4 separate regions of the Homo sapiens genome follow, and all the other regions are linked to region 1. The links come from fine-mapping of genetic effects on gene expression. A gene starts in region 1. Each other region holds a variant in brackets. All regions are shown on one strand. Distances are from middle to middle. Region 1 holds the start of CHMP3 (charged multivesicular body protein 3). Region 2 overlaps KDM3A (lysine demethylase 3A). Region 3 overlaps RNF103-CHMP3 (RNF103-CHMP3 readthrough). Region 4 has its middle 44 kb from the start of KDM3A.

What was found.
Region 2: its variant is fine-mapped to the expression of CHMP3 in lymphoblastoid cells after a statin (CAP, PIP 0.95).
Region 3: its variant is fine-mapped to the expression of CHMP3 in whole blood (TOPMed, PIP above 0.99).
Region 4: its variant is fine-mapped to the expression of CHMP3 in tibial nerve (GTEx, PIP 0.92).

The regions. Positions count from the first base shown.
Region 1 is chr2:86,559,335-86,567,334 of GRCh38, reverse strand. CHMP3 (charged multivesicular body protein 3) reads left to right here and starts at 3,892. Exons shown (of 6, transcript NM_016079.4): 1 at 3,892-4,031. The coding sequence starts at 3,987. All of the region lies in intron 3 of RNF103-CHMP3 (RNF103-CHMP3 readthrough), which reads left to right. It overlaps CHMP3-AS1 (CHMP3 and RNF103 antisense RNA 1), which reads right to left and starts at 5,265. Exons shown (of 6, transcript NR_183901.1): 1 at 5,088-5,265; 2 at 4,415-4,489; 3 at 3,936-4,067; 4 at 3,553-3,647; 5 at 3,195-3,358. RefSeq lists enhancers at 3,517-3,576, 3,735-4,029, 4,187-4,286, 4,297-4,466.
Region 2 is chr2:86,460,982-86,469,197 of GRCh38, reverse strand. It overlaps KDM3A (lysine demethylase 3A), which reads right to left. Exons shown (of 26, transcript NM_018433.6): 9 at 4,982-5,145; 10 at 2,315-2,826. Among named protein-coding and RNA genes, the nearest start is that of KDM3A, 24 kb to the right of the region's middle. The variant TG/G (reference allele first, on the strand shown) is at 3,259.
Region 3 is chr2:86,597,740-86,605,739 of GRCh38, reverse strand. The region is part of intron 3 of RNF103-CHMP3 (RNF103-CHMP3 readthrough); the gene reads left to right. It overlaps RNF103 (ring finger protein 103), which reads left to right. Exons shown (of 4, transcript NM_005667.4): 4 at 322-2,342. The coding sequence ends at 1,897. The region is part of intron 5 of CHMP3-AS1 (CHMP3 and RNF103 antisense RNA 1); the gene reads right to left. Among named protein-coding and RNA genes, the nearest start is that of RNF103, 22 kb to the left of the region's middle. The variant G/A (reference allele first, on the strand shown) is at 3,508.
Region 4 is chr2:86,393,590-86,401,805 of GRCh38, reverse strand. No RefSeq gene overlaps it. Among named protein-coding and RNA genes, the nearest start is that of KDM3A, 44 kb to the left of the region's middle. The variant A/C (reference allele first, on the strand shown) is at 4,815.

The sequences.
Region 1 (8,000 bases):
TGGCAGTCCTAGGAAATCAACACAAGGATTATTGTAAGTTTGGTGGAGAATGGTTGGAAATGGACAGGAGGTGACTCAAGGTCTGTCTTCGCCTTATCTCAAGTCGTAAGTTGTGGGTTGGGAGACCCTTGGTCCTGAAGTTTAGTCATAAAGATAAATCCACTCCAAAATTATTATATAAGTCATGGGAGGGAGTTCAGTTTCCAAACATTGATTTATATCTAACATTTCCAGGGTCCATCTGTTGTATAAAACAAGGTGTATCTTGGCTTTAGAAAGCCAAAAGTCTTGCCAGGAATTGGGTTATGATTTTCTTGCCCAAAGCATTTCATTTAACAATCTACCTGGCAAATGGGGAACAGTTGTGAGCCAGGAAGCTCCCTAAGACTGGATATCTTAGTGAAATGAGCAAGGAAAACTGGAAGGTGGAGGAAAAACAGTCCTTTCTGTTTTTCATTTCAAATTCAGGGGAGGATTTAAAGCATAGGCATTGAAGTACCTCTCAAGGATACACATCTATTTATATTTTTCAGAGATCAGGAGGAGAATGCACATAAAGCCTTTGAAAATGTGTGTGAACAAACGTCTATGTGAACATATGGCAGGGGAGTGTGATCCTGTTAAACACTTGCTGTGTTTGGCAGGAGTAAAGAGCTAGAATGCCTGCTCACTTAGTTCTTCCCACCCACTCAGATGTGTGAGTCTTAGCAGGTGGGAGGATCTGTAGCTTGCTTCCTGAGGTCCATGTAGGAAGGACGAACTTGAGCCCCAGCCGCAACTAAGGAGTGCTCTGTCCAATGCAAAAGCAGTATCAGGACACAAATGGAGAGTACACGTTACTCTAAAGATAGAGCCTAAAAAATGTGTGGAAGCAAGATGCACGGTGCAGAGGAACTGCACTGATGTGTTGATAGGGCTCTGTCAGTACCTATGAGCTCTGTACGACATTGAGAGGCCATGTGCCAAGTCAAACCTTCCTCCACACCCTGCCAGGCCTCTCTGCCATTGATGGCCAGCTTTAGAACAACTGCAGCTTTAGGATCTGAAATGGCTGTGGCCTAAATCCTCCACCCAGAAACAGGGAAGGCTCTTTGGCACATGCTGTTTCTTTTACTCTGGATACTCTTCCTCTCTCTGCTAGCTCATCCTTCAGGTCTCAGCTTATTTGTCATCTGTTCAGGGAAGAGTCACTGATCAGCACTTTCTTCTTATAGTCAGAATTTTGCACATTTGTAGTAATACAATTTCGTCTATAACCATTGTTTAATACTATTGTCCTTCTCATCAGATTGTAGGAGATTTTTTTCTGCTCACTGCCATTTTCCTGAAGCCTATAAAATGCCTGACATATAGTAGGCATTTGAGAAATACTGTTGACTAATTGGCGATCCAGTATCCTCCTACTTGAAAAAAATGCTTATAGTTTATTCTCAAAAAAAGGTGAAAGAGACTTAAAAAAATTCCACATTTTCAAGGAACTCCTTCACCTTTAAAATGGAAGGAAGAAAGGAAATAAGGAAGGGAAGGAGGGAGATAAATGGAAAATGAACAAGGGTTATGAAGAAGCAAGTCACAGAAGAAATTCAAATGACCAACAAATATATGAAAAGATGCTTATCCAGACTAATAGTCCGGGAAATTAAAGTTAAAAACAATATTTTATGCCCTTAGATTGGCAAAAATTTTAAATATTGCTAAAATTCACTTTTAGCATGGATTTAGGGAATAAGAGTGCTGGTATACACTATTGGTAGGAGTTCACAATAGTGCAATGTATATGGAAGATACTGGTATTAAGTTTAAAATTTTTAACTGTGCCTATATTTGCAGGATTATTTACTAGGGAAAAACTAGAAACAATCTTATATAATAGGGAAATGGTTAAATAAATTATGGTACATTCTTGCTATGGACTGCCATAGGTATTGACACTGATGAAAGTCTACATAAAATGTGTTTAAAAGGAAATTGTAGGACAACGTATATAACATAATATCAATTAAATAAAAATAGGGCTGGGAGAGGTGGCTCAATGTATATAATATAATCTCAACTAAGTAAAAATAGGCCCGGGCAAGGTGGCTAACACCTGTAATCCCAACACTTTGAGAGGCTGAGGTGGGAGGATCGCTTGAGCCCAGGAGTTTGAGACCCGCCTGGGCAACATGGCTAACCCTTGTCTCTACAGAAAAATTAAAAACACAGTGGGCGTGGTGGCTGACACCCAGCTACTCAGGAGGCTAAGGTGGGAGGATCACTTGAATCTGGGAGGTAGAGGCTGCAGTGAGGCAAGATCCTGCCACTGCACTCCAGCCTGGGTGACAAAGTGATACCCGGTCTCAAAAACAAATACATAAATAAAAATAAAAGTATATTTTCCAAAGGAAAAGGTTTCAGAAGATTCACACTATATTTAATAGTTGGTGTGAATCCTTTGAGACCTTTTCCCCTGAGGAAGTGAGAATGAGGGTTTAACTTTTCACAATGAACAGGCAGTGCTTTTTTAAAAACAACTTTATTGAAGTATGATTGGACATAAAATAAATCGCACATACTTAGTGTCCAACCTGGTAAGTTTTGATATTGTATACATCTGTGAAACCATCATCACAATCAAGATATTATCCATCATCCCCCTAAACTTCGTGTCTCTTTGTAATCCCTCTTTTCTGCCTCTTTCTGACCCCACTCCTATCCGCTAGCAACCGCCCATGTACTCTCTGTCACTATGTATTAGTTTGCATTTTCCAGAATGTTATGTAAATGGAATCATACGGTTCTGGCTTCTTTCACTTGGCAGAATTATTTTGAGATTCATCCATGCTGTTGCATTTATCAATAGTTTACTTTTTTATTGCTCAGTACTATTCCTTCGTATGGATCAATCACGACTGGTTTATCCATTCACTTGTTGATAGACATTTGGATTGTTTCCAGTTTATGGCTATTACAAATAGAGCTGCTATGAACATTTGTGTACAAGTCTTTGTAAGAACATATGCTTTTTTCCCTCTTGGGTAAATAGCTAGGAATGGAAGGCTGGCTTTGTTTAGCATTTTAAGAAATTGTCAAAATGTTTTCAAAGCTGCCGAACCATTTTATGATTCCACCAGAGACAGGAGTATGGGGCTGAGGTAACAAATGGTCCCCTTCACCATCCTCGGATGAGTTAATGACAGTAACCATCAGCTCACCGTATAGGCCTAATCAGGAACTGTCCGTGCTAAAATGTGTCTAGTTCTCTTTAGTCAGATTCCTTTGAGAGTGTGATTAAGCTCACGGTCAGTGTGGCGTGTAGGACGGGACACACATGGACAAATGCTAGGCAGGAATCGCCCACGCTGGAAAGGGCGATGGCCTGAAAAAAAACGACCGCAGTTGGGATGGAAAGGGGAGGGTTGAAGTTCAGACATATTGAAGTTAGAATGGTTGGGACTTGGTAAGAGGGGAGAGAGGACGATGCCTAGGGTTTAGTGACCAGGTGATGGTGGTGCAAGCAGAGGGGAGGAGTGGGTTGGCGGGAGGAAAAAGAGGTTATTTTTGGTTTGTCACCTGTGAGTTGCCTACTGGACACAAAGATGAAGCTGTCGGGAAAGTGATGCTAAGTGTACACGTCTGCGTGGAGATCCAGACTTCTGGTGCAACATCTAGGTTTAGGTGAAGTATTAGAAGCAGTTGTAGCCAACAAATTCGTATCTTTCAGAGCAATCATTTCTACACCTTACGAAAAGCACCGAATCCGTGGTCTCCCCCACACAGACATGACCAGAACATGTGCGATGACGTCAGCCTTTTTGACTAGTCTCCCACTCACTCGATTCTGCGCAGGCGTATGGCGCATGCGCAACATCCCCTAGTGCCGCCGCTCCCTACTCTGGGGGTTGGGACTACCTCCTTTTCCGCGGGCCCCGCCCAGGCGGCTGCCCGTGACCTGCCTGGGCGCGGGGAACTGAAAGCCGGAAGGGGCAAGACGGGTTCAGTTCGTCATGGGGCTGTTTGGAAAGACCCAGGAGAAGCCGCCCAAAGAACTGGTAAGGGCTACGGCGGCGGCAGATAAGCGGGTGGATCTGTGTGGGGCGTAGTGAAGTTGGTAAATGACAGGACACTCTTCTCCCCACCGCCTGCCCGATACCGCCCGGCCCCCATTTCCGGGGACTCCCACTCGACAGGGGGGCCGGAGGAAGAGTCTTTAGGAGTCGGCTGTGGGACGCGAGAGCTCCTGGTGCCATGGCTCTCGAACAGGTAGCCGAGGGTGGATGAAGAGTTTCTCCACCTCGCCACTGAGCGCGTAGGCAGCGACACCGTCCTGGCCTCGGAAACCTCTTCCCCCTGCGCGCGTTGGTACGACCCGCCCGGAACCTTTTCCCAGCGTAGGCCCCACCCCTCCAGCCCGGCTGCGGACCACCCGGAGAACCTTCTCCTGCCCGAAGCGTTGTTTGGAGCGGGCCGGGTCGCGTCTGCCGGAGGAGCCGTCTGTTCTCCGTCCTCCCTGTTGTGTTGAAAAAGAGGCTCAGTTTCCTCTTTCCCCAGCCCTTGTGTTGACCCTAGGCACATACCGTAGCGGGGCAGGGACTCGACCCAGAAGAATGTTACAGAAGATAGCTCTGGACCCGGCTTCGAACTCTCGTTACCTATTAATTGAGATAATATTGGGAGGCAAACAGTTGAAAATGCCCTGCAGTCAGTCAACCTAAGTTTGAATCCTGCCTTCCCACATCTCAGCTCTGTGATCTCTGGAAAGTTCACTTCTCAGTGCCTTCTCGACTGTGAAGCCAGAATAATAGTAGTGTCACCTCAGAGTAATTGAAGATTCAGGGATGTAAAGTTTTCATATTGGTAGTTAGGGCTAATTCTTTAAATACGGCACAGCTTTGCTACTCAAATGCCAACCAGCAGCATCAACATCACCTGGGAGCTTGTTAAATCTCGGACACCACTCCAGACCCACTGAGTCAGATTTTGAATTCTGACAAGCTCCCTAATGATTAGTGTGCACATCAGTGCTTTGAGAAGCACTGCTCTGCAACACCTAGGCTTGTCCATAATGGAAAAAAAAAATCCTGAAATCCTTTAATAAATGATCTTACCTGTTCAGCTCTAGCAGGCACATTTTAAAAACTAATCTTATGCATCTTGCAATTCCTGGCACATAATGTGCGTTAATGTAAATTTGTTGTTGTTGTTGTTAAAGGCCCTAGAACAGTAGACACTCATTATTTTCGTCAGGAAACTTACTCAGTTTTGCTCCTTGGTAAAATAAAAATTGTGGCGCTTAAATGAAATAACGGTATAACATCACTTTGGAAACTATAGAACATTATATAGATGCACATTTTGTGACATCTGTATATTCTAAGATTCTTGTTATTGTAGAAGTGTGGTAGGGAGAGATTATTTGTTGTCTTCAGTGTTTGGCCTTGGCATTGCCATTCGTAAATTGAGATAAGATTATGGAGAAGCAAAAAAGATGCTGGGGAAATGGTTGCTTTATTGTTTAAACTAGTCTCTAGTATATGTACTACTATACTACTCTAGTATATTGTACACTTAGATTGTTTTTAAATGATAAATTGCTAAGAACACGATATTGGTACACTCTTCAGTAGGGTAATCTACCTGAGAAAGCTGATTGACACTGGAAAATGGCAGGGTTGATGCATGAGATTGGTTTTTAAAACTATGCTTGCCAGAGCCGAACAGGTAAGATCATTTATTGAATAAAAAATTTTAGTTGTTTTTCCCCCCATTATGGACAAGTCTGGGTATTGTAGAGCAGTGCTTCTCAAGCATTAGTGTGCACACTAATCATTAGGGATCTTGTCAGAATTCAAAATCTGATTCAGTAGGTCTTGGATAGGGTCTGAGATTTCTAATAAGCTCCCAGGTGATGTTGATGCTGCTGGTCTACACTTGAGTAGCAAGATTGTAGAGTGAATTAAGATTAGCCCTAACTACCACCACCTTTAGCTAACATATTGAACCAGGCATTGTGTTAAGCACTCTGCAATGTTATGAGGTAGGAACTGTTATTGTCTCCACTTTACAGGTGGCAACTGAGGCATACAGTATTTAGGTAATTTGCCCAAGGTCATACAGTTTGTGAATTACAGCACCAGAGGTTATGTATTCTAAGGCCTATACTTAGAATTATCATGCCATTTATACTACCTCCCAAAGAGGGATTATAAAGGTGAAATAAGAAGCCAAAGAACTTAACTTCTAGCAAGTAAGATAAACATTTTAAGAGCTGGTTTGGATAGGGCACCTGATATGGTTTGGATCTGTGTCCCCGCCAAATCTCATGTCAAATTGTCATCCCCAGTGTTGGAGGTGGGACCTAGTATGAGGTGATTGGATCATGGGAGCAGATTTCCCATGAGTGGTTTAGCACTATCACCTTTGGTACTGTCCTTGAGATAGTGAGTTCTCATGAGATCTGGTTGTTTAAAAGTGTGTAGCACCTTCTCCCTCATTCTCTCTTGCTCCTGCCATGTAAGATGCCTATTTCTTTGCCTTCCCCCATGATTGGAAGCTTCCTGAGGCCTCCCCAAAAGCAGAAGCTGCTGTGCTTCCCGTACAGTCTGCAGAACTGTGAGCCAGTTAAACCTCTTTTCTTTTTTTTTTTTTTAAATTATACTTTAAGTTCTGGGTTACATGTGCAGAACGTGCAGTTTTGTTACATATATACACGTGCTGTGGTGGTTTGCTGCACCCATCAACTGGTCACCTACATTAGGTATTTTTGCTAATGTTATCCCTCCCCAACCCCCAACCCCTGACAGGCCCCGGTGTGTGATGATCCCCTCCCTGTGTCCATATGTTCTCATTGTTCAATTCCCACTTATGAGTGAGAACATGCGGTGTTCGGTTTTCTGATCTTGTGATAGTTTGCTGAGAATGATGGTTTCCAGCTTCATCCATGTCCCTGCAAAGGACGTGAACTCATCCTTTTTTATGGCTTCATAGTATTCCATGGTGCCACATTTTCTTAATCCAGTCTATGATTGATGGACATTTGGGTTGGTTCCAAGTCTTTGCTATTGTGAATAGTGCTGCAATAATTTTTTTTTTTTGAGATGGAGTCTCGCTCTGTCGCCCAGGCAGTGCAGTGGCGCGATCTCAGCTCACTGCAACCTCCGCCTCCTGGGTTCAAGGGATTCTCCTGCCTCAGTCTCCTGAGTAGCTGGGACTACAGGCCCGTGCCACCACATCTGGCTAATTTTTTGTGTGTTTAGTAGAGACAGAGTTTCACCGTGTTAGCCAGGATGGTCTTGATCTCCTGACCTCGTGATCTGCCCGCCTTGGCCTCCGAAAGTCTGGGATTACAGGTGTAAGCCACCGCGCCCGGCCCTCTTTTCTTTTTATGAATTACGCAGTCTCAGGTATTTCTTTATAGCAATGTAAGAACCGACTAATACAGTACCACATACACAGGTATAGGAGTTCAGTGGTTGGAGTGATTATCTCCAGGCTGAGATGATCAGAAACAGTTTGACCTTTCACTGTCATGTGTTCCATCCTCTTCCTGCCTATGAATGGGTTCTTGACTATTTAGTAGGATTTTTAGTGTTAGATTATCCACTTTATCTGGTGCTGGAGATACCCTGCCCAAGGTTTTCTTCAAGTTCCTCCTCAGTTCTTCAAGGTACCCATTCAGTTTTGATATGTTTTAGTTTGTTAGAAGAATGTCCATCCACTTTAGGGTCAGCTTCTACCAAGTGCCAGGCTTTCTCTCACACCTGTGACTTGTGAACAAAGAAAGTGTTTTGTCACCAGCTGTGGTTACTTAGCATTAGTCTGTAATTCAAGAAGGTGCCAATAAAGCAGGGATGGTGTATTAGTCAGGGTTTTCCAGAGAAGTAGAACCAATAGGATGGATGGATAGATAGGTAGTTGAGAGGGAATTTAATATGGAAATTGACTGGGGATTATGAAGGCTGAGAAGTACTATCATATGCTGTCTGTAAGCTGGAGACCCAGAGAAGCCAGTGGTGTAGCTC
Region 2 (8,216 bases), 98 kb after region 1:
GAGGTGATCTAATCTTACCTCTCTTTTAAAGCAGGACTAGACCACATGTAAATTTCTACATGATGCTGTTAGTCCTTGATCCCTTAAACACTCCTACTCAGTTATAGTGAAAGAGAAGGTAAAGTAAGAAAGGAGAGAAAATAAAGAGATTAGTAGTTCAAGGATGTAATTTTAATTACTCAGATATTGAAAGACATCCTTTGAGTTGAGCCAGGCTTCCACAGATCACAGGCAAGAAGGTTATCTTATCTGTTCTATCCTGGCTCACAAGAGGAAATATCTAGAAACAAGAAAGCTGAACTGTCTAAATCTAGCTCTTTACTGAGGAGAGCAACAGGTGCTACCATCAGTGATTCTCTGAATTCAAAGCCAAGTCAAGAGAAAAATGCAACGCCCACTTCCGAGGAGCCACGTATCTATCTGAACGGAAAAAAAGGCAGCTGTTTGACTCCAGTTTGCTTTTGTTTTCTAGACCCCAAGTGGAAGAAAGGAGCAGAAAAGTTTTCCAAGCCTTCTGTACTAACATGCAGTACTAGTGGACACAGCTCAGAAGTCCCGGTAGGCTTCTGATCACACTCTCACACCTCAACCAAAAAAAAAAAGTCACAGTAGATAGCAGGATGTGCTACTCCAGGATGTAAGTTTTTCACTTCTTTTAAAATCCATTAGATGGGGAATAGCTACATAACATATTAAATGAGACAAAGCTGGACTCCGTAACTCACTTGTGTATCTATCATGTGCTTATTGCACTAGAATCTTTACTGTTTCGTCACATAATATTAAATTTGCTTCAAAAACTAGCTGTGTGTGAGAGCTGATGATTCAAAAACAACAAATAGAACAAGGATATGGTTATGAATATGTACTTTCTTTTGAGTGTTACCTAATTTCTGAGAACAGGATAATCTTATGCAATTAATTTTATGCAAATTAACAGCTATATTAACTTAAGCCTCAATGAAGAAGCTAGGTTAGAAGTATTGCTAGGCAAAGAAAGTTCTTTCTATTCTTCCAATGCTATACTAAAAAGATTCGCAAGTCAAATCCAGCCATCTTGCCCTCTAATTTCACAGAGGCCTGCAGTTAAAAAGATAGTGTAGATATATTCATTTTTACTGATCCAAATAAATAAATTGTTTTCGTAGGTTGTTTTCGTTTGTTTGTTTTTTGAGCCAAGCTCTCACTCTGTTGCCCAGGCTAGAGTACAGTGGTACAATCATAACTCACCGCAGCCTCCAACTCCTGGGGTCAAGCAACCCCCCTGCCTCAGCTTCTCCAGTAGCTAGGAATAACAGGTGTGCCCCACCATGCCTGGCTGATTTTTAAAAAAATTTTTTGTGGAGATGGGGTCTCACTATGTTGCCCAGGCTGGTCTCAAACTCCTGGTCTGAAGCAATCCTCCCACAGTGGTCTCCCAAAGTATTAGGATTACAGGTGTTAGCTACTATGCCCAGCCTAAAACATTAACAAAATCCATATCAATTTCCCACATAGCTAACAGTGATCAAAAGGCATCTTTAAATTCTAATAGCTCTAAACCTTTTGACATGCTGAAAACATTTTGTTCTTCTAACTCTAGTAACAGAGCTTCTGATAACTACCACCATTATAATGCATCCTCAAACTTCATATAAGTAGCATCAAGTACAACGTACCAATTTCCCCATAAGAAGAGTAGTTTTAAATTGTGGGTGCAGCAGGACCTCCCCTTAAGCAAAGAGACTCTTCCTGGTAGTTCAGCCCTATCCGTAACATCTTTAACCCAAGTCCTTTTTCCAGAAATGATACAATTCTGCATCTTTTCTAAAATTTCAAATCTTAGCTACCTGTCACAGATCACCTCTTCCTACTCCAACCTGGATGTAACAGAAAGATCAGTGACAAGCTGAAATAAAGTAAACACCAGATTACTTTAGATTTTGTTTCAAAATTTTCTTAACCTAAGAATTGGGAACCACCTAATTACCCACCTAATAGGAACCAGTTAAATCCTATGGTAAATGAACATAATGGAATCCTTGCTTTAAAATACTAATAGACACCTACACTAATTCACAGGGTAAAATTATTGGCATGAACCCATTTGTGTAATACAGTTTATCTGTATTTCTATATACATGAAACCAGGTACACCAAAATATTAACAGTAATCGTTTCTGAGATTTGGGAATTATACCTTCTTTCAACTTTTCTGACTGTATAAACTATTTCTACAAAGTCATTTTCACATAGTTTCTCATAGGACAAGAAAGAGATATATATATCTACCATTTCTTACCTTCTACCAATAAAGATATTGAGAAACACTCACCATTCTGGATTTTATTGTTGCTTCTTGAACAACAGCTTTCATTATCTACTTTTACTGAAGATTCCTTTAAATTCTGTGATCGGCAAGCTAAAGCTGAAGGTTCTACCTTTTTTCCTGAACAGTTATTAGGGCTATCACTATTGACACCTGCTTTCACTTCTGGTGCATTTGAAACATCCGATGGGGAAGGTGCATGTTCTAGGTGCTTCTGCAGTTCAGGAGGATTGGCAATTTCCAATTCTGCCTTAGAAGAAGCCTTTGTAGGTAAGCACTCCTTAGGAAGGCCAGTCAATGCTTGTGGAACAGACTCCAATCTGTTTTCCTGATCAGTGTTTGTCTTAGGCTGAGTACAGCTGCCTTTTGGCTCAGTCAGAATTTTCAAGTCTCCAGTTCCAATCTGAGAGGACTTTGAGAGCAACCCTGCTTTGCAGACATCTGGTTTTGTTCTCAGAGCTTCAGACTTTGTATTTAGACAGGAAGAAATTTCCTCTGGTAAACTTTGTTTATGACATCTGAAAAATATAATATAGAAAGCTAGCATCCAGGCCTCTTTTTATCTCTCCATTATCTTCCCCAAACAAACTGTTTGGTTCCCTAAGGTAACGAGTATGAAAGAAAAAAGAAAATTTCTCATATGTTACAGAATTTAGGATAGATTTCTGTGAGCTAGAGTTAAAAGTCATCAGTCAATGGTTCTGCAAAAATCATAAACACTCAGAAAAATACAACCCTAAATTATGTCTGCACGTTCTCAGAAATCTTTAACTTCTTACGTTAGTTCTACTTCTCACAGCACAATGAACCTTAGCTTTCCCTCAAAACAAAATATTGTATGAAACCAAAGAATATACTCAGCAGATAAGCTGGTTTATAAGTATCAAAACCAGAAGTCTGTGTAGGGGCAATTCCGAAAGTTTTCTTTCTTCTTTTTTTTTTTTTTTTTT[TG/G]TGTGTAAATTTCAGAGAAACCTCTGCTAAAACTCTTTCTTCTATAGTAAAGATTATGTTTGAATTTTAAAGATAAAACTCCATTCTTGCTACTTGCCAAGAGTCAAAAATTGAACCTCTAGTAAAGGTCAATGTGTCAAGATAAAAATTCTAAAATATATACGTATATAAAAAATGTTAGAAATCCCTTCAAAGATATTCACACAAAATCTAATTAAAAACGAACAATGGGCAAGGCACAAGGGCTCACACCTGTAATCCCAGGATTCTGGGAGGCCAAGATGAGAGGACTGCTAGAGGCCAGGAGTTCATGACCAGACTGGGCAAAATAGCAAGTCCCCCATCTCTACAAAAAAATTAAAAATTAGCCTGGTGTGGTGGCACGCGCCTGTAGTCCCAGCTACTTGGGAGGCTAAGGCAAGAGGATCAATTGAGCCCAGGAGTTCAAAGCTGCAGTAAACTTAAACTTTGACTGTACCACTGCAACTGCACTCCCTCCTGGGCAACAGAGCAAGATCCTGTCTCTAAAAAACCTCAAAAACTAAAAAAAAACTAACAAACTGGCAGCAGCACAAAACCCTTTTCTGCTATGAGCAACATGTAACCAGCCCTAACAGAGAATAATTTCATTCTTGTTTGTTCAGTGATCAGCACACAGAGCAAATAGAATAGCTGATTGATTACTTGGTTATTCACAGAACGATTTGGTATTTTCCCTGTACATCTTACTAGGGATAGCCTTGAAGAACTTTTGTTTCTTAGCATCCTAGAGTTCTTTCTCCAGAAAAATGCAAAGTCCTTTTTTTCTATTATACCTGTTTGTTCCTGCCTCTACCAAAGGACTTCACCCTGGAGAAGAATTTTTCATTTAAACACTCAGATGAAAAATCTTTCCTTGGATATCACTGAACTTCCTAATGTTCCCTCCGTTTCTATTTTGAAGACTGCTCCTCCTCCTGTCTGACTGCCACATGGCCATCCTCCAAGCTCTATCCCAGACTGACTACTTTTTCCCAGTGAACCAGTGTGCTCAGCCACTCTCCCACCTTCCAAACCTACTTTTCTATACCACAGTCTCTCTGACCTACATCTTAAGGCTGTATCAACTGCCTGCCTACGCAGGCCACCACCACTTCCCAGAAGAGATCCTTCCCTTGAAACTACTTGCTCTGTCAACCTTGTACCTACTTTAAACTTTCTAGTGAAACTTTACATTTCGTACTCATTTTCTTCCTCTACAAGTTAGTAACAGTTACCACCTACAGATATTGCTTCCTCATTTCTATTATTCTTAGAGTCCTCTCTACTGCCAAATTTCTCAACTATACTTGGGTCAATTCATGTCGAGGCTGCGGAGAATCTCTCACTGTAACCATGTCTCACTGCTTCTTCACACTCCCACTGACCTCAGTCTTCCATGTACAACCAATCTGTTCCCTTTTCCTTAAAAGAAGACACCTGTTTTACAAAGGTACTATTTCAATTGCTCCTTCACACTGTATCAAGACAGTCTCTTTTCTCATGCCCCCTTTCACTTCTATACCATTTTCTATGTTGCTCTGTGTGCCTTCTATACTTTTCACCTTCAAAAGCATCTATCCATCTTTTCTCAGAAACTCTAACGAAAAACCTCCCTGGACAACCAGGGATAAAAACAATGAGCCATGACTAAAATAATTTTTTATTATTATAATTAAACATCTTTAACAAATCACTACTCACCCTTGAGGAATTTTTGCTCCAAGGTTAGGTGGAGAGTTGGCAGCCTGGGGAGTACTTTGCTGTCTTGGGTCCTTACTAGGTGGAGTTGCCGCAGTACAGCCAAGCAGTATCTCCTTAAAAACTGTTGTAGGTACAGACTGCACAGGACACATACTGGGAGAGGCCTAGAAGATACCAAACCAACAGATATTAAAAGGAAGTCCCTAGTTAGGAAATAATAAAATGCTACCAAATTTAAGATCATTTGCTTAATACTAAACAAACATAATACCATTGCCAAATAAAAAGAAACAGGAAAGTGAAACAAGTGATAAACTATACAATTCAGGGCTTTAAGACTGTAAGTAATCACTCCAGCTTTTCACAAAACTTATGTCTTCCTACAAAGGATCACAAGCTTATCTTTTTCAGACCTCTGAACCACTGTGCCAGGAAAACAGTCAGGTGGCAATTACTTTACTAATGCAACGCAGAGGTGAACTTTTAAGTGACAGTTTTAAATGGTGGCAGCTTCACATGCATTCACTTTGGCATGACTTGAGTGCCCACCACGCACTTACTGCATAGTTTGGCAGGAGACCAGACCACATAGGACTCTTGTAGGCAGGGATGCCTATTTGGTACCCAGATAAGCCTTTGCAATGCAATAAAAGTTGAGGACAGTTCTTGCTCTTATGTGGCTCATCAAGTCACAGAAGTCATCCCAAGCTGCAAAAAATATCAAGTTATGACAGGCCTGTGGGCAAAGTTGGGACACCTGTCCCAGTTCCCTTTTCAGGTAACTTAATCTTCAAAAAAAGGAAGTATTGAATCAACTTCTTAACAGTTTATACCATTCACAAAAATAAACTTCCCACCATAAAAAAGAAAGGAGAAACTCAAGACAACTAGTCTAAGGCTGAACCAGGTGAAACCAATTCACCCATTTCACCAGGCTCCTCACATGTGCTTAAATTTTTAAGTTATATACCTTAAATTTTTAAGTCATATACCTTTCTCAATCGTCTTGCCTTACCACCAAATCTAAACTTGAAGAATCTCCAAAGTTTCTTCATCTTCTAGTCATTAACTTCTAAAGTTTGATTACAACTTCCACTAATAGGTTTTCTGTTTTGTTTTTTGTTTTTGAGACAGTCTCACTATTATCACCCAGGCTAGAGTGCAGCAGCGCCATCTTGGTTCATTGCAACCTCTGCCTCCAGGGTTCTAGCAATTCTCAGGGCTCAGCCTCCCGAGTAGCTGGGATTACAGGCATGTACCACCATGCTCGGCTAGTTTTTCGTGTTTTTAGTAGAGACAGGATTTTGCTATGTTAAGGCTGGTGTCCAACTCTTGGCCTCAAGTAATCTGCCTGCCTTGGCCTCCTAAAGTGCTGGGATTACAGGCATGAGCCACTGTGCCTGGCCAGCAGGTTTTTAAAACCTGACAATTTCGAATATATTTATATGTACTCTACTCATGAATGCTTTTCTCAGAAATTTACTTGACAGCCTTGAAAAGACTAGCTAGCATATACAGATATATCTGAAAAATAAGAATTTAATCACTGGCAAAGTTTTGGCATAGTTTCAACTATTTTTAGGCACTAAATTATCTGATCATATATTACACTATTTCAGTCAACTCAATTTTGGTTAAATAGTACCTTAATGTTCTCCAGAAGGTGTGATGGTTGGTTTTGGGTGTTTTTTGAGTTTCCTAATCCTTTAAATGAGGAAATTTGTTTATTCCTAAAGTCCCTTTTGCTTGTAATAGTTTGCAATTCCCTGTTAATCTGAGGTTAGTCTCCCAAAGTTTAATGCTAAATCATTTTGAAATGCTTATTCAAGGCTCAATTTTACCAATTATCTTTCCTCATATTGGTCACCTTCCTTATTCTGAATATGTTTAGAATTGATGCACTAATACCTTTCCTCACTCTCCCAAGAGCAACATACTTAAGAAATTTGGATTATAAACCTAAGCATAAATTTTTACTCTGTATAAAATCAAGCCGCTCAAGTTAAAAAAAAAAACCCTCCATCTAATTTCCCATATGTAATCAATAAACCAATAAATCTTGCCTCTATTTGCAAAGTATGTATTGAATCTACCCATTTCTTTTCATGTCACTACTACTACCATCTTTCCCCTAAGCTACACATGTCCTAACCAACCTTCCTTCCATTCTTGTTGAATCCTCTGCATCCTACCCAAGATCTCTTCTACCACAGAGCAATCTCTATAAAACATAAATCAAATAAGATCACGGCAGTCCACTGCCTACAAGAATCCCATGTGGTCCAGTCTCCTTACCACTCCTGCTCCTCCTCCCCCCATCTCTTTCACTGCCCCGCTTGCTCACAGTACTCCAACTACACTTGCTTCCTTTCTCATCTCCTAGTGTTCTAAGCCCTTTCTTGCCTGGGCCTTTGTACTTGTTATCTCTCTGGCTACATCGTTTTCAGTGGCTGGTTGGTTCTCTCTGTTCACCCTCAAGTCTGTTAATATGTCACACTCTCAGAATTTCTGATTACTCTTTCTGAAGTAGCATCCCAAAAGCCGTCCCTTACTCTTTATCATTTTTCTGTTTATACCTTTCATAGCCCTTATCACACCATGAAAGTACCTTTCACTTATTCACTGTCAGTCTCCTCACAATGGGACACACACTGTTTATGGGCAGAGGCCCTGCTGTTGCGCCCACTGTTATAACCTCATAAAACCAAACATACAGTGGATGCTCAATAAATAAGACTGGTGGAATGAACATACCAAGGAGTGAATGCTGTTAGCATGTAACATTTCTAAATAGCTATAAATCAATAAGTCTTATGAGTTACCTGAAGTGACAGGAAGTGATGATCACCACTGTAGATCAGTCTAGCATACACTAAATATGCAATAAATACTTGTTGGAAGGAGGGATGGAGGAACAGAGGGAAGGAGGGAAGAAAGGAGAAATCTGCTATTTTTACAAGGGTGATTCACCACACCAAGGAGAAGATTTGGAGAGCAGTGGCAACAGCACAGTGATGAAGAGTACTGGATTTTGGTGTTAGCCTTTGGTTTGAAATTCAGTCTCTAACACTTCCTAGCACTTTCTTCCCATGAAGTATACTTTACAGGGCTGTGCTTTTACCATAGTGCCTGGCGCTGAAATCAATTTTAGAGATGAGCTGTCTTAAAGCAGAAAAACATTGCGAAAATTTTCTCAATTCTGTCACCGTGTGTTAGAATTAGCACAACTTAGCGT
Region 3 (8,000 bases), 38 kb before region 1:
ACATGAATTATTTTCTTGTCTTCTGGATCTTAGCACATAACGCAGTTGTAGGTACATGAGAGATGCTGAAGTATTTGCTGATTCCTTTGACTCAGAGGCTTTTCAAGATACACTTTATTTAATAAAAAAAAAAGAAACACAGAAATACAAAACAAACTAGAAAAACAGAGCTTGTTTTTCACAGCTGCCAAGTAGTGGTACCACTTTTTGATTATTTGGAAATTATTTGGCTTTGGGGTGAGGTGCTAAAGAAATTTGTCAGGGAAGATAAATTGTTTGCATTACAGCCTAGCTGTTTATTTACAGTTTCCTCTCTTGTAGATATTGCAGGAGAAGAGGCTGGGTCCGATCCACACTCATTATGTCTGTTCCACAAACAAGTACTTCAAAAGGGAAAGTCATGCTTAAAGAATACAGTGGACGCAAGATTGAAGTAGAGCACATTTTTAAATGGATAACTGCTCATGCAGCTTCTCGGATCAAAACCATTTATAATGCTGAACACTTGAAAGAAGAATGGAATAAAAGTGATCAGTATTGGTTAAAAATATACCTATTTGCAAACCTTGACCAGCCCCCAGCTTTCTTCTCTGCACTAAGTATAAAGTTTACTGGAAGAGTTGAGTTTATTTTTGTTAATGTAGAAAATTGGGACAACAAGAGTTATATGACAGATATTGGCATATATAATATGCCATCATACATACTTAGAACTCCTGAAGGAATTTACAGGTATGGAAACCACACAGGCGAATTTATATCCCTTCAGGCCATGGATTCATTTTTGCGCTCATTACAACCCGAGGTAAATGATCTGTTTGTTTTGAGCTTGGTTCTAGTTAATCTTATGGCTTGGATGGACTTATTTATTACACAAGGAGCTACCATAAAGCGATTTGTGGTTCTCATAAGCACTTTAGGGACATATAATTCTCTATTAATTATTTCCTGGCTACCTGTGTTGGGCTTTTTACAGCTACCTTACTTAGATAGCTTTTATGAATATAGCTTAAAATTGTTGAGATATTCCAATACAACCACACTGGCTTCATGGGTAAGGGCAGACTGGATGTTTTACTCTTCACACCCAGCCCTGTTTCTCAGTACATACCTTGGTCATGGTTTACTAATTGATTACTTTGAGAAGAAGAGAAGGCGCAACAACAACAATGATGAAGTCAATGCCAATAACTTAGAATGGTTATCAAGTCTGTGGGACTGGTACACCAGCTACCTCTTCCACCCGATTGCTTCTTTTCAGAACTTTCCTGTAGAATCTGATTGGGACGAAGACCCTGACTTATTCTTGGAGCGCTTAGCTTTCCCTGACCTTTGGCTTCACCCTCTGATACCAACTGATTATATTAAAAACTTACCAATGTGGCGATTTAAATGTCTTGGAGTCCAGTCTGAAGAGGAAATGTCGGAGGGGTCTCAAGATACTGAAAATGACTCGGAAAGTGAGAACACAGACACTTTGAGTAGTGAGAAGGAAGTATTTGAAGATAAGCAAAGCGTACTTCACAATTCTCCAGGAACAGCAAGTCACTGTGATGCTGAGGCTTGTTCATGTGCCAATAAATATTGTCAGACCAGCCCATGTGAAAGGAAGGGGAGGTCATATGGATCATATAACACTAATGAAGATATGGAACCTGATTGGTTAACTTGGCCTGCTGATATGCTGCACTGTACTGAATGTGTTGTTTGCCTAGAGAATTTTGAAAATGGATGTTTGCTAATGGGGTTGCCTTGTGGTCATGTGTTTCATCAGAATTGCATTGTGATGTGGTTGGCTGGGGGCCGACATTGTTGCCCTGTTTGCCGGTGGCCTTCTTATAAAAAAAAGCAGCCATATGCACAACACCAGCCCTTGTCAAATGATGTCCCATCTTAACCATGTGCAATTTGTCCTTTATAAGCTTTGAGTATCTTACAGCTTGCCTTTTTAATGTTAGTCACAATGTTTTTGTGGTTTGAAGTTTAGTTTAATGTTAGTGCAGTGACGGGAAATACACATTATGCTAATGTTGATGACAGAATTTATTTGGTTGCCTTGTGTGTTAATTGAATGCATACCTAATTGTAAAATTTTTTTATTTACAACATTGGAAATTCAGAAGTTAATGTTTTTTTGTAAGCACAAAAGAAGTATTATAGAAATTTATCCTAGCAAGACTTTACAAGATAGGATCAAATTCTAATGGAATTGAGCCGGTTTCTTATCCTAAATGTTTCCTCCCTTTTTACAATCTCTGTCCAGCACCTCTTGGTTAAATAATGTATGCTGTGAGACATGAAATTAAAACAGACCTATGAAATAAATTATTTTAAAACCAGAAGATTACAGATTTTCCAATGTTAAATTTTTTTGATAAGGTGGCTGAATGATATAGGTGTTTTGCTGGTTTGTTAATTTCACAGATAGATCAAACATGATTCTTGACTCACGTTGGGGAGGAAGACAAAATGTTGCTGGCACTTGCTAGATGTGACAGTTCACCTTTTAGCTTGGTTAGCTGTGATGGGAAAGAGTTTCATGGTGGGCTTTTGAAAAAGTACTAAATAATTTATCAGTACTTAGCACATTCATCTAAATAAAATCAACTATAGCATATTAGCCACACATAAATTATGTTTTTTCTGACTTTTGAAATTTTTTAAAGCTACAGAAAGCTGTAAACATAGTACAGTGAACATCCATTTCTTTTTATCTAATTCACCAAGTGTTCACATTTTGTTATATGTTTTATCTCCTATCTCTTATGTGTATATTTCTTTTTTTTTTTTTTTTTTTTTGAGATGGAGTCTCACTGGGTCGCCCAGGCTGTAGTGCAGTGGTGCAATCTCGGCTCACTGCAAGCTCCGCCTCCTGGGTTCACAGGAGTAGCAGGGTCTACAGGTGCCCACCACCACGCCCGGCTAATTTTTTGTATTTTCAGTAGAGACGGGGTTTCACCGTGTTAGCCAGGACGGTCCCGATCTCCCGACCTCGTGATCCGCCCGCCTCGGCCTCCTAAAGTGCTGGGATTACAAGCATGAGCCACCGCACCCGGCCGCTGATCCTTTTGAAAATAAATTTCAGTCATCATGATGACTGACTGCTAAATATATCACCACATATCTAAGAACAAGGACATTCTTTTATGTAACCACTATACCATTATGACACCCAAGAAATTTAACATTGACTCAATAATAGCTAATGTATATAAAATCGATACTCCCCAATTGCTCCTGAAATATCCTTTATATCTAAATGTTTTTGTTTTATTTTTATTGTGAACTCAGACATAGTCGATACATTAAGTTTAGTCTCCTCCTTTTCATCCTTTCCTCTAGAGTAATTCCCCCTGCCGCCACCCCTTTTTTTTCTTTTTCTTTTCTTTTCTTTTTTTTTAAAGACAGTTTCCCTCTTGTTGCCCCGGCTGGAGTGCAATGGCGCGATCTCAGCTCACCGCAGCCTCCACCTCCCGGGTCCAAGCGATTCTCCTGCCTCAGCTTCCC[G/A]AGTAGCTGGGATAACAGGCACCCGCCACCACGCCCAGCTAATGTTTGTACTTTTAGTAGAGACGGGGTTTCTCCATGTTGGCCAGGCTGGTCTCAAACTCCCGACCTCAGGTAATCTGCCCGCCCCGGCTCCCAAAGTGCTGGGATTACAGGCGTGAGCCACGGCGCTAGGCCCCTGCCCCCTTTTTAAAAAAGTAGACTCTTCTTTGATTTCTCTCTGGTGTTCTGTTTTATTTTTCTTTTATCATTTTTTTCTTTTTTTGAGATGGAGCCTCTCTCTGTCGCCCAGGCTGGAGTGCAGTGGCATGGTCTCAGCTCACTGCAACCTCCGCCTCCCTGGTTCAGGCGATTCCCCTGCCTCAGCCTCCCGAGTAGCTGGGATTACGGACATGCACCACCATGCCTGGCTAATTTTTGTATTTTTAGTAGAGATGCGGTTTCACTATGTAGGCCAGGCTTGTCTCGAACTCCCAGCCTCAGGTGATCTGCCCACCTCGGCCTCCCAAAGTGATGGGATTACAGGCATGTGTCACCACACCTGGCCAATTTGTTTTACTTATTTTTATTTTATTTTTTTATTTTATTTTATTTATTTTATTTTATTTTATTATTTTATTTTATTTTAATTTTATTGAGACAAGGTCTTGCTCTGTTGCCCATGCTAGAGTGCAGTGGCATCATCATAGCTCACTGCAGCCTCAAACTCCTGGGCTCAAGCGATCCTCCTGCCTCAGCCTCCCAAGTAGCTGGAACTACAGGCTCAAGCCACAGTGCTAAGTTTTGTTTTGTTTTGTTTTTTGTTTGTTTTGTTGTTGTTGTTTTTGAGAGTTGGAGTCTTGCTTTGTTGCCTAGGCTGGTCTTGAACTCCTAGGCTCAAGCAATCCTCCTGAGTAGCTGGGGTTACAGGCATAAGCCATAATGCCTTGCTAGTTGCCTTTTTTTGGTACTAACATTTTTGGAGACTACAGGATGGTTGACTTATAAAATGCTCCACATTCTAGATTTGTCTGTTTCTTTCATGATTAGATTTAAAGGATATTGTCTGGAAGGTATGTACTTTCCATTTGTATGGCATCAGAAGGCACATGTCAGTTTGTCCTATTATTGGTGACATTTGGTTAAAGTGATATTTGCCTTTTCTTTCCATTCTAAGATACTTTTTCACTTTAAGAAGGAACCTGTTGAGACTATGCAAATATCCTATTCCTCAACAATCTAACCCAATGGCTTTAACATCTGTTGATTCTTTGCATCAATCAGTTATTAAAGAAGAGTTGCAACATGGGAATTTCATTTATTTATTTCAAGACAGGGTCTTGGTCACACAGGCTGCAGTTGCAGTGGCATGATCACAGCTCACTGCAGCCTCAACTTCCTGGGTAGCTGGGACCACAGGTGTGTGGCACCACATCCAGCTAATTTTTGTATTTTTTTGTTAGAGACAGGGTTTCGCCATGTTGCCAGGCTGGTCTCAAACTCCTGGGCTCAAGTGATCCACCCGCCTTAGCTTCTTAAATTGCTGGGATTACAGGCGTGAGCCACCGTGCCTGGCTAAGATGGGGGTTTTCTAATACCATCATTCATTCTACATTTATTGACTTTTTTGTGAACAAGAACTTTCCATTTTTCACACTTTTGATTCACAGATTTTTTAAAATACCCTATGTGTTAGAATTTATGATTCTTCTTGATTTTCAAATCATCCCAGATTAGGCTAGAGGGAGCCTCTCTAAGCCGGCTCTTATGTCCTATTGACAGTCCCTTTAATCTCGAAGCACTTCCTTGCCTTTTGACACAAAGGTATCCTAAGTTCACTTTGTATTTTCCCTGAGCCAGCCCTGTAATCAGCCATTTCTTCAAAGTGCCCGTTTCATGGTAGACTTGTAAAATCCTTAATTGGATGCCCCCCAAAATGGCAAGAAATTTTTTTCATTCTGAATTGCTGCTGACATTTTTTCCCCTTCATGATGCATTGTGTCTCACTTTCATATGCTAAGGAATAATAAGGCCTAGCAGTTACTTTGTATTAATATTTGGGAGTTTTTAAATAAAAGTGCAAGCACTGCTTCTTGTGCTCTAATTTTACTTTTGAAAAAAGTAATCATTCACAGTTCTCAAATATGAGCATAAAAACAAATTTTAAAAAATTTTTAAGTGCCCATATTATTGTAAATGTTAGTGTTTCCCAAGATTCTGCCATTGGTTCATTGATTTTTTTTCTCTCTTCATTGGATGTCTCCTAAATCTACATATCTAAGCAAAGACCCCTCCTAGATCTTCACTTTCATTTATAGCTGTCTGCTGGACAGCTTCTCCTCATGTTTTTAAGTACTTAATGACCCTAAGAGAGCTTTTTTATTCATTTATCCCACCCCCAGTCATCCTCTTAATTAAGGTCCTGATTTCAGTGAATGAAAAATTATATATATACACGTGTATATATATGTATGTGTGTATATTTATATACATATATACACGTGCATGCATATGAAATATACACAAAAGCATAGAAATTTTTTAAGAGAATTAAAATTTCCCCAGTATTCCAGGGCACACCATATGTTGGAGACTACTAACTTGGAAGATAAACCAATCTCTAACACTGGCTTTCAAGGTTCATAATCTGCTCCTGGCCTACCTCTTACACTCATCATGACACTCTATTCTGCTTGTGGCCCAGGCTCATGCTCTAATTTTTCCCAGCTTGGTGCTTTGCTATTCCCTCTACCTGATATTCTCACTCCTTCCTCTCTGCTTTGCCTGGCAAAATCCCACATTCTCCAGAAATTCTGTCCCTTCCTACCTATCTTCTCCTTCCTCACCAGGCTTATAAAGAGACAAAAATATGCAATGGACACTCAGGTGAATGTCACCCAAGTGATCAAACTTATCATCATCCAATGTGTGCCTTTCCTCCATATCCCACTGATATACCATGTACATGCCTGTCACACTTAGCTGCATTGAATTAAAACTCTGTGTCTTTGGTGAGCTCCTTTATGGTAGGAACTGTTTTGTTTGTCCAAGTATCCACAGTGACGGCACAAAATAGACATAATACATTTTCAACGTTAGATATGCAATAAAAATATTACAATGAGATCAGTGGGAAAATAATTGCCAAAGTTACATGTCTCCAGGCAAGCTTGACTCATCACTTAATTGTCAAGCACAACAAGTAATAATGCTTTTGTCAGATTTTCCTGGAGGTGGAGCATTGAAGGAAATATTTAAGGTTGATAGACTGTAAACTTTAGCTGTGTTTAAAATAAACGTTTGAATTCTTAGAACAACCTATCTCATGTAATGAGCTACGGATTTCAAGTACGTGGGCTATGTAGTTACTGAACTCTATGGTTAACTGTAATAGTAGGTAGGACAGATAATTTCTTCTGATCAAGAGTTTTTCTACTGTCTTCTCTAATAATTCCTTGTGTAGCCTTTTCTTTCTTTAAGGATGATAAGCTCTCTGAGGGCAGGAGTAACACTATAATCTACTCTTATATCCTTAACATATTAGAACCAGAGTAGATATTCGGTCAATAATTGTTGGCTTGAACTTTAAGAATCTATTTTATTTTTTCCCTTTACCAAACTTTTATTTATTTATTTATTTATTTATTTATTTATTTATTTATTTATTTATTTTTGAGATGGAGTCTCATTCTGTTGCCCAGGCTGGAGTGCAGTGGCACGATCTTGGCTCACTGCAACCTCCTCCTCCTGGTTTCAAGTGATTCTTCTGCCTCAGCCTCCTGAGTAGCTGGGATTACAGGCGCACACCACTGCACCTGGCTAATTTTTGTATTTTTAGTAGAGTCGGGGTTTCACCATGTTGGCCAAGCTGGTCTTGAACTCCTGACCTCAAGTAATCAACCCACTTCAGCCTCCCAAAGTGGTGGGATTACAGGCATGAGCCACCGTGCCAGCTTTTGCCAAACTTTTTACTATCCATTTAGAATAGGTGGAAAAGATTGAAGAAAACAGATTATATTTTTAGTGCCCATTAGAAGTGACAAAAATATTAATATTTATGGCCTGCTCCAAGACAAAAATCTTAATTGTTCCCCATAGTTACATACTTCTTTTCGTCTATTCCTTACATTGTTTGAGAGCCTGGGAGATTATTTATGTGATCTTTCTCCTTGCTCTCCCACGTTTTTCTCCTTGGCCATTTTATTATTCCTTAAAATTCTACCAAAGGGACGTGACGTAGAGAAAGATCTGGATCTTGTGTTAGGTCCTTTTTGCTGTTGGATCTGATTAAAAACTCAAAGAAGAATAAATTGAAATTTAATTGTTAAAATATGTTTTAATCATCTGTGTTTTAATCATTCTTGTTCTTTGTTGTCAATTAAATATATTGACATGATCAATTTAGGCAATCTTTTCATTTAATTTTTTAATAAATGTAATGATGTAAAATCATTACACTTTTTGTAATGATGTAAAATCTCATCAAAATATTTTATTGTTTTATATATACTAGATTA
Region 4 (8,216 bases), 170 kb after region 1:
ACAAAAAGGCAGAGGAAGAGGGCATTATCTCTCTCTTGAAGTGGAACATCCATTGCCCTTGGACATCAGAGCTCTTGGTTATCAGACCTTTGGACTTTGGGACTTATACCAACTGCCCCCTACTTCTTAGACCTTTGGACTTGGATTATATGTTACAACATTGTCTCCACTGTTCTCAGGCCTTTGGACTCAGACTGAATTACAACACTGGTTTTCCTGGTTCTCCACGATGCAAACAACAAATTGTGGGACTTCTTGGCCTCCATAATCATGTGAGCCAATTATTATAATAAATTTCCACATATATGTATACAGAGAGAGAGAGAGACAGAGACAGACAGAGGGAGAGAGAGAGAGAGAGAGAGAGAGAGAGAGACTGTGCCTGACTTATAATGGCTCGACTTTACAATTTCTTTACTTTACAGTGGTGCAAAGGCAATAGGCATTCAGTAGAAATTATACTTTGAGTACTCATACAACCATTTTCTGTTTTTCACATTCAGTATAGTATTCAATAAATTACATGAGATAGTCAACACTTTAGTATAAAATAAGCTTGTGTTAGATCATTTTGCCCAACTGTAGGCTAGAGTAAGTGTTCTGAGCGCGTGTGAGGTAGACTAGGCTAAGCTATTATGTTCAGGTAGGTCGTGTGTATTAAGTGCTTTTTTTTTTTTTTTTTTTTTTTTTTGAGACAAAATCTCACTCTCGCCCAGGGTGGAGTGCAGTGGTGCAATCTCAGCTCACTGCAACCTCCGCCTCCCGGGTTCAAGTGATTCTCCTGCCTCAGCCTCCTGAGCAGCTGGGATTATAGGCATGTGCCACCACACCCAGTTAGTTTCTGTTTTTAGTAGAGGTGGGATATCATTATGTTGACTGGGCTGGTCTCAGACTATTCACCTCAGGTGATCTGTCTGCCTTGGCTTCCCAAAGTTCTGGGATTACAGGCCTGAGACAACACACCTGGCCCCTTAAGTGCATTTTTTTTTTTTTTACTTATAATATGTTCAAATTATGCCAGGTTTATCAAGATGTGACCCCATTGTAAGTTGAGGAGCATCTATATATCCTATTAGTTCTGTTTCTCTGGAGAACCTTGACTAATGCAAGCCCAGAGCACCCACTGCAGGGTCAGCCTGGAGCTCCCCTCCTTGGGACTTGCTGGAAATTGCACCTTGCTTACCTGCTGTGCTTTTGTTGTGTTGGGGGTTTTCGAGTGGTCTGAGTTAACCAGCTTCTCCAAGAGTGATATTTCCCCTTCAGTTAGATTTGCATCAGACATGAGTCTTAGACACTGTCTAATGCTCAAGGAATTTATTCTGGCAGCACTTTTATAAGACAGGAGCAGGCTGGTGGCATGGGCTAGATACAGTCAGGGGATCAGATGACAAATGACAGAGAGGGTCTCCATCTGGAGACTGTTCTCAGAGTTTGGGGGATCCTTCCCCCTTTCTTATACCTGCATTCAGTCCAGGTCAATTACCTCAGTTACAAAGTGTTTCTTTCATAAATGGAGTTGAAGCTATTCTTGTAAGAGTAAGCTTTGTTTTATGATTTATGAAAGTTGCATCTATGCTGAGGTGGCCTTGTCTCCTGGAAATCCATGGACCAGAGTTGGAAATCTCCAGGTCAGGTTGTAGCATACTACCAAGTGACCAGTAGTACCAGCCCTGCAAGATGCATGAGTGGGCCTTATGGCTGCCATTAATCTTATAGCCATGATATGCCTCTTCCAGTGTACTACACCTTTCCCCGTCCTGCTGCCCCCCACACCCTCAGAGATGTCTTCTGGAATAAGTCGACTGCACAAGACTGCTTCTGAGGAATCTCTCCTAAATGAGGGAAGCCCAACCTTCTTAGTCCCTTTGGGCTGCTGTAATGAAGAGTAATATACTGGGTGGCTTATAAATAACAGAAATTTATTTCTCACAGTTTTCTTAAATTATCTGAATCAAATTTAACAGTTCTGGAGGCCGGAAATCAGAGAACAGGTGCTGGCATGGTTGGGTTCGGGTGAGGGTTTCCTCCAGTGACAGACAGCTGACTTCTTACATCCTCACGAGGGAGAGTGTATTAACTCTCTGACCTTTTCTTATAAGGGCACAAATCCCATTCATGAGGGTTCCACCTTCATGACCTTATCACCTCCTAAAGGCACAAACTGCTAATATCATCACACTGGGATTAGAGCTTCAACATAAGAATTTGTGGGGTGGGGGGACACACACTTTCAGTCCATTGCACCAACCTAGCAGAGACTTTCCAGTTTGGCTTCAGGGACTCCTTCTCAGGCTCCTCTTCACATTTGACACCATGGGCCACTCTCCTTCCAAAGCTCTTTAATGCGACACGGCATTCTCCAGTGTCTGCATTCTCTCTGATGCTCCTTCTCTGCTTCTTTCTCTGGCTCCAAGTACTTCCTCCAGTCACTAAGGGAGTGTTCCTCAAAGTTCCTTTGTCTTCTCTTCTCTCTCTACACTTTTTGACTTGCTGATCTTACTCGCCATCATGGCTCAGCCAGTATCTGTTTTCTCTCCTGAGCTTCAATCTCGCATTACCAACAAATCTCCCATATTACCAACAAATCCTGGTAGCTCGTCTTCACCGTGTCTGGAATGGACTCTTCCTCCAACCTGCTTCCCCTCCCTGTCTCCTAGTTCTGTGAGTTGCTCCTCCACCCCACTTCAGTGTCATCTCAGGCTCCTCCCTCTACTTTGTTCCCCTTCCCAAGCAGTTGCCAAGGCCTCTTGATCTTGTCTCTGCAATTCTTGACTCATTCACTCTCTCCCCATTTCACCACCACCTCAGTAAGTTGAGTCCATATGTAAGTCCAAGACCATCCATGCCTTCTATTTAGTCTTGCATAATTTCTGGTCCTATCCCAAGATATTACAAATGTTGGGACAGATCCTGGGATCCCAAATTTCTTTTTCTGAAAGCATCACTAATGGATTCCATGGCTGTTACATCTGTTTATATCTAGTAGATTCATGTTATCGTGTTCATGTCAGAAGATATTAATACTGGAAATTATAGGCATTAGTGGTCAAAAAAGAAAGAAGCCCTAGACATTTGTGGAATAGAGAGGAGAGATGACTTAAATTCTTTGTACCACAAGCTATGACTTAATAAGTCTCTTAACAAAGGTTACTATAAAGTAAATGAGAAAATACTCATCTCATGGGCATGCATTGAGCTGTAAAACCACAGTAATTTGCTGAAAATAACTGGATCAATATACCTTTTTTATGAAACTTTGACTAAAGTGGTTCATTTATATTATCAAAAAGCAAATAGCTTGTTCCAACTGGGTAAAAGTTATATAAATATATCACCGACACCATCAAAATAGAATTCAAAAAATACCGACTTACTATTTCACTGACTTAATTTCCTCCACTGCAAAATTTAGCATGCATCTGTGTCGTAGGTAATTATTTATCTCATCTGCTCATAATAGCAACATCCTTCTTCCGGGAAACTGCCCCCTAGCCACATGAGTCTGCCATTTGTGATACTCTGTGTTCTGGCCACCAGTGAATGCAGGTGACACAAGTGGAGTATTAACTCCCAAGGGCTTGGTTTGGGCCGGGAATTGACACATGACCTAAGCCTGGCCAATCAGAGTTTTCTTGTTAGATTTTTATCATTCAAACTTGGAAAGGAGAGCTGTGGTTGCACACGGTGTGGATGTAATGCTGGGACTGCCCACGGCCACATCCCTTATCTTATGGAGAAGCCAGTCTAAGAAAACAAAGCTAGCAAGGAGATAAGAACAGAGCCCCAAGGACAGTATGAGAGTCCTGGCGGTTTAAGCCCTGGATCCAGCTGAACCTACTCTTTCTATAGTCTTTCTCCCTGAGCCAATACATTTTACCCTTGTGCCTAAGCTAATTTAAAGAGTTTTGACCAGCAAATCCTTGTAGGCAGAAGATATATTTTCTATCAATCTGTGCCTCTTGGCATCTAGAGCAAGTGAGGGTTTTAGGAAGACCTGCTGATTGATTAAAGACTAATTTATTAGACAATTATCCGAATCAAATTTAACTGAGTCATTTCTTTTCTCCAAGACAGGCATGCAAGTGTGCACGAGCATATGCACATCACATACTCACATACACACACAGACTAAGTTTGGTGGCCAGGCATGGTGGCTCATGCCTATAATCCCAGCACTTTGGGAGGCCAAGGTGGGAGGATCGCTTGAGCTCAGGAGTTTGAGATCAGCCTGGCCAACATAGCAAAACCCTGTCTCTACCAAAAAATACAAAAATTAGCTGGGCATGGTGGTGTGCACCTGTGATCCCAGCTACTTGATAGGCTGAGGTGTGAGAATCACTTGAGCCCAGGAGGAGATCTTGAGATCACGCCACTGCACTCCAGCCTGGGAGACAGAGTGAGACCTCATCTCAAACAAACAAACAAACAAACAAACAAAAATAGACTAACTTTAGCATTCCCCATTTAGCAGACCTGGAGAGTGTGCATGTGTGACCGAGTGTACGTGCACACACACACACAGTCATCCAACTCACACAATACTCTTTTCTAGGAATACAGAAAAGCTTCACAGGTCATACTGGCAAAACCAAGTTGTTTTTTCTTTCTTTTTTTTTTTTTTTTTTTTTTTTTTGAGATGGAGTCTCGCTCTGTTGCCCAGGCTGGAGTGCAGTGGCGCAATCTCGGCTCACTGCAAGCTCTGCCTCCCGGGCTCACACCATTCTCTTGCCTCAGCCTCCCGAGTAGCTGGGACTACAGGTGCCCACCACCACGCCCAGCTAATTTTTTGTATTTTCTAGTAGAGACGGGGTTTC[A/C]CCGTGTTAGCCAGGATGGTCTGGATCTCCTGACCTCATGATCCACCCGCCTTGGCCTCCCAAAGTGCTGGGATTACAGGCATGAGCCACCACGCCCGACCAAAACCAAGTTTTTTAGGGAATGTTTTCACATTATGTATAAGATGGGGAAGAAAAAGAGTATTATACAGCTTTCATTTTGTTTCAGGGACTGTGCTTTGTGTTGTAATATATTTCCTCTCATTTTCTTACCACAAAATTCTATCAGGTGCACATTATTATCCCCATTTGACAGATGAGGGAGCTGGAGACATGAAGCTCAAGGCCACACAGCTGCTATCTCTATCTGGAATTCAGCATGGACCCTGGCTTGTGGACTATGCTGCCTCCCTGTGGACTATGCACTGCTCCAGAGGCAAAATGGAGACCACAACAATCCATTTCTTGAAACACAGCCTAAGTTTCTAGAATCAAGATAGGTGCATAGCTAAAGTATTTGTCTATGCAAATAGAAACGGGCACAACGGAAAGACCAGGGTCATGAAGGGAAAGTCAGCGAAGGGCGAAGGGGGTGGGGGGCAGAGAGCCAGGAGGTTTGCTGAGGCATTAACCGAGTCCCACGGCTGGCACTGGCTCTAGACTATGAGCTCACCCATACACAATGATCATGGAGCCTGTGCCACCTGATCCAGGGCTTGGCACAGGGTAACTTCTCAGTGTTTCTGACTGAACTGGGGGAGATTTATTGAATAGCATGGGAAGGAGTAGCAGTCCTCAAAATACTGCCTCCAGTGTTTTGTCCACGAAGATGAAGAAAATAACCAGATCTTGCAGCAGCACTGAAAACTACGACCAACAGGCAATCAATAGACAGATAAATTGGGATCTGATTATGAGGCAGATATAACCATTTTGAGGAAAGCACCCAAGCTACAGCTCCTGGTACGAACCCCAGCTTTGCCTTCTGAGTGCTGGATGTAAGTAAGCAAGCTTGATTCTTCCATCTAGGTTTTGTCCTTGGGCTCAGACACACAAAACATAGGAAGAACAAAAGCTGGCATTTAATCCACCCTCTAAATCCCTTGGATATTTATTTATGCACTTTGTGCATTTTTTGTACACTTCCCTTCTCTTTTATACCCTCCATTCTCACATCCCATATTTCTGGAGATAGAGGCTACCAATTCCAGGGAATGGGGCAGTAAGTGAGTCTTGTGTATGTGTATGTTGAGTGGGGGTTGGGGGAAGTGAGTGTGTGTATAGTACATCTTGGGAAGTTAGTTCTAGGAGTAAAGAATTATCGGGCCAGGTGTGGTGGCTCATGCCTGTAATCCCAGCACTTTGGGAGGCCGAGGCGGGCAGATCCCCTGAGATCAGGAGCTCGAGACCAGCACGGCCAACGTGGTGAAACCTAGTCTCTTCTAAAAATACAAAAATTAGCCAGGTGTGGTGGCAGGCACCTGTAATCCCAGCTACTCAGGAGGCTGAGGCAGGAGAATCGCTTGAACTCAGGAGGCAGAGGTTGCAGTGAGCCAAAACTGTGTGGGAGAGACCCAAAGGACCTTGCAGTAGTTCATCCAAGATATTCCATTCATTTAGGGAAACAGAGGAATGCAGACAGGGAGTATGAGAAAGCTGCCATATGGGTAGTGCAACGCTTCCCTGGGAAACAGGCAGGGAAATCAACCTACTCCAAGCTGTAGATTTGAGAAGAGAAACCAAGCACTGTGGAGATGACGACCCACAGCCACCCACCCCCAAATAGTCTGTGTGATCACACCTTGCCTTGTTTGATGCGGAGTGAAGAGAACTGGATTTATAACAACATTTAAAGTGACATTTAAATAATTTAAAACAATATTGGATTTACAACAAAATAATGATTTTTTTTTAACATAGTCTTGCTCTGTCACCCAGGCTGGAGTGCAGTGGCATGATCTCAGCTCACTGCAACCTCCACCTCCTGGATTCAAGCAATTCTCCTGCCTCAGCCTCCCGAGTAGCTGGGATTACAGGTGCGTGCCACCATGCCTGGCTAATTTTTGTGTTTTTAGTAGAGATGGGGTTTCACCATGTTGACCAGGTTGGTCTCGAACTCCTGACCTCGTGATCCACCCGCCTCAGCCTCCCAAAGTCCTGGGATTACAGGCGTGAGCCACCGTGCCCGGCCCTAGCTATCTTTCTTTTATCAATTTCTGATTTAATTCTATTGTAGTCTGAGAGCAGATATTGTGTAGTTTCTGTTGTTTTAAACTTGCTAAGATAGGTGCATGGCCCATAATGTGGTCTGCCATGGTGAATAGAATATATTTTTTACTTTTTAGTATGTGGAAAAACAGTATAATGAACTATATTTTCATCACTAGGCTTCAACTGTTATCAACACATGGCCAATCTTATTTCATCACTGGTTTCTCTCTTCCTGGCTAATTTAAAGCAAATTTTAGAAATTATATCATTTTATCAATAATTGCTTCAGTATATATTATAATGTGGGCATCACCATTGAGAATGTGGTCCTTAGGAATTCAACAAAATCATCCTGTACCAAGACCCACTGATATCCTTGCCTTTACCTACCCTACTCTATGCCCTATACCTTGGCCCAGGCTAGATGAATCTAATTTGTCTCTGTGCACTGAAAGGACTCTGCAGGTGGCTGATATAAATATGCCTTTGGGAAGCTACTTCGGGTGGCCAAGGGGACAGTATTGCAGTTGGCAGTCTGACTCCAGCTGTCACCACTTGTGAGCCATGTAGCCTCAGACAAGGCATTTAACCTCTAGAGCTGTATCAAGGTTTTTCTCTTCTGATTAAATGGAGAACATAAAACCTACTTCACCAAATTGTTATGAAGCTTAACTAAATAAAAGTGAAAGTCAGGTTAGTCATTATTATCACAGTTTATGCAGCAACACAATCATGTCAGGGAAGTCTTTAGTGTAGGGATTTCTTTTGCATACAGGAAGCCCTGTGCCAACTTTAGAGAGTCCAGAAAACCCCATGAAACCACAAGACCTAGGCACCAATTCCCAGAACAAGGCTGAATTTAGTCCCTGATAGAGTCTGAATCCTGACTATGGCAAGCTAGGCAACTCAAACTGTCCATTGTGAACTGGGCATTATCTAATCCACTGAGTCATAAAATTGGAATGTGCAGCAGTACTCAGTATAAAATGGAAATGGTGTTTACAAGATAAGGCCCAAGCAGGTATAAAAGGCTCAAGAATATTGCATAAGCAGGTGGCTCACCCTCCCACATTTTTTGCTTCTACTACTTTACCACCTCTCTCAGCCCACACCAGTGGCCTCAAGGGGAGTTGCCTAGGACTAGCTGACAGAAGAAGAAAAAGCACAGGCTTGGTTTGCAGTGGGTCTGCATGATAGGGCTGCAAGTGAACAGCTGCTGTTTTACAGCTCCCC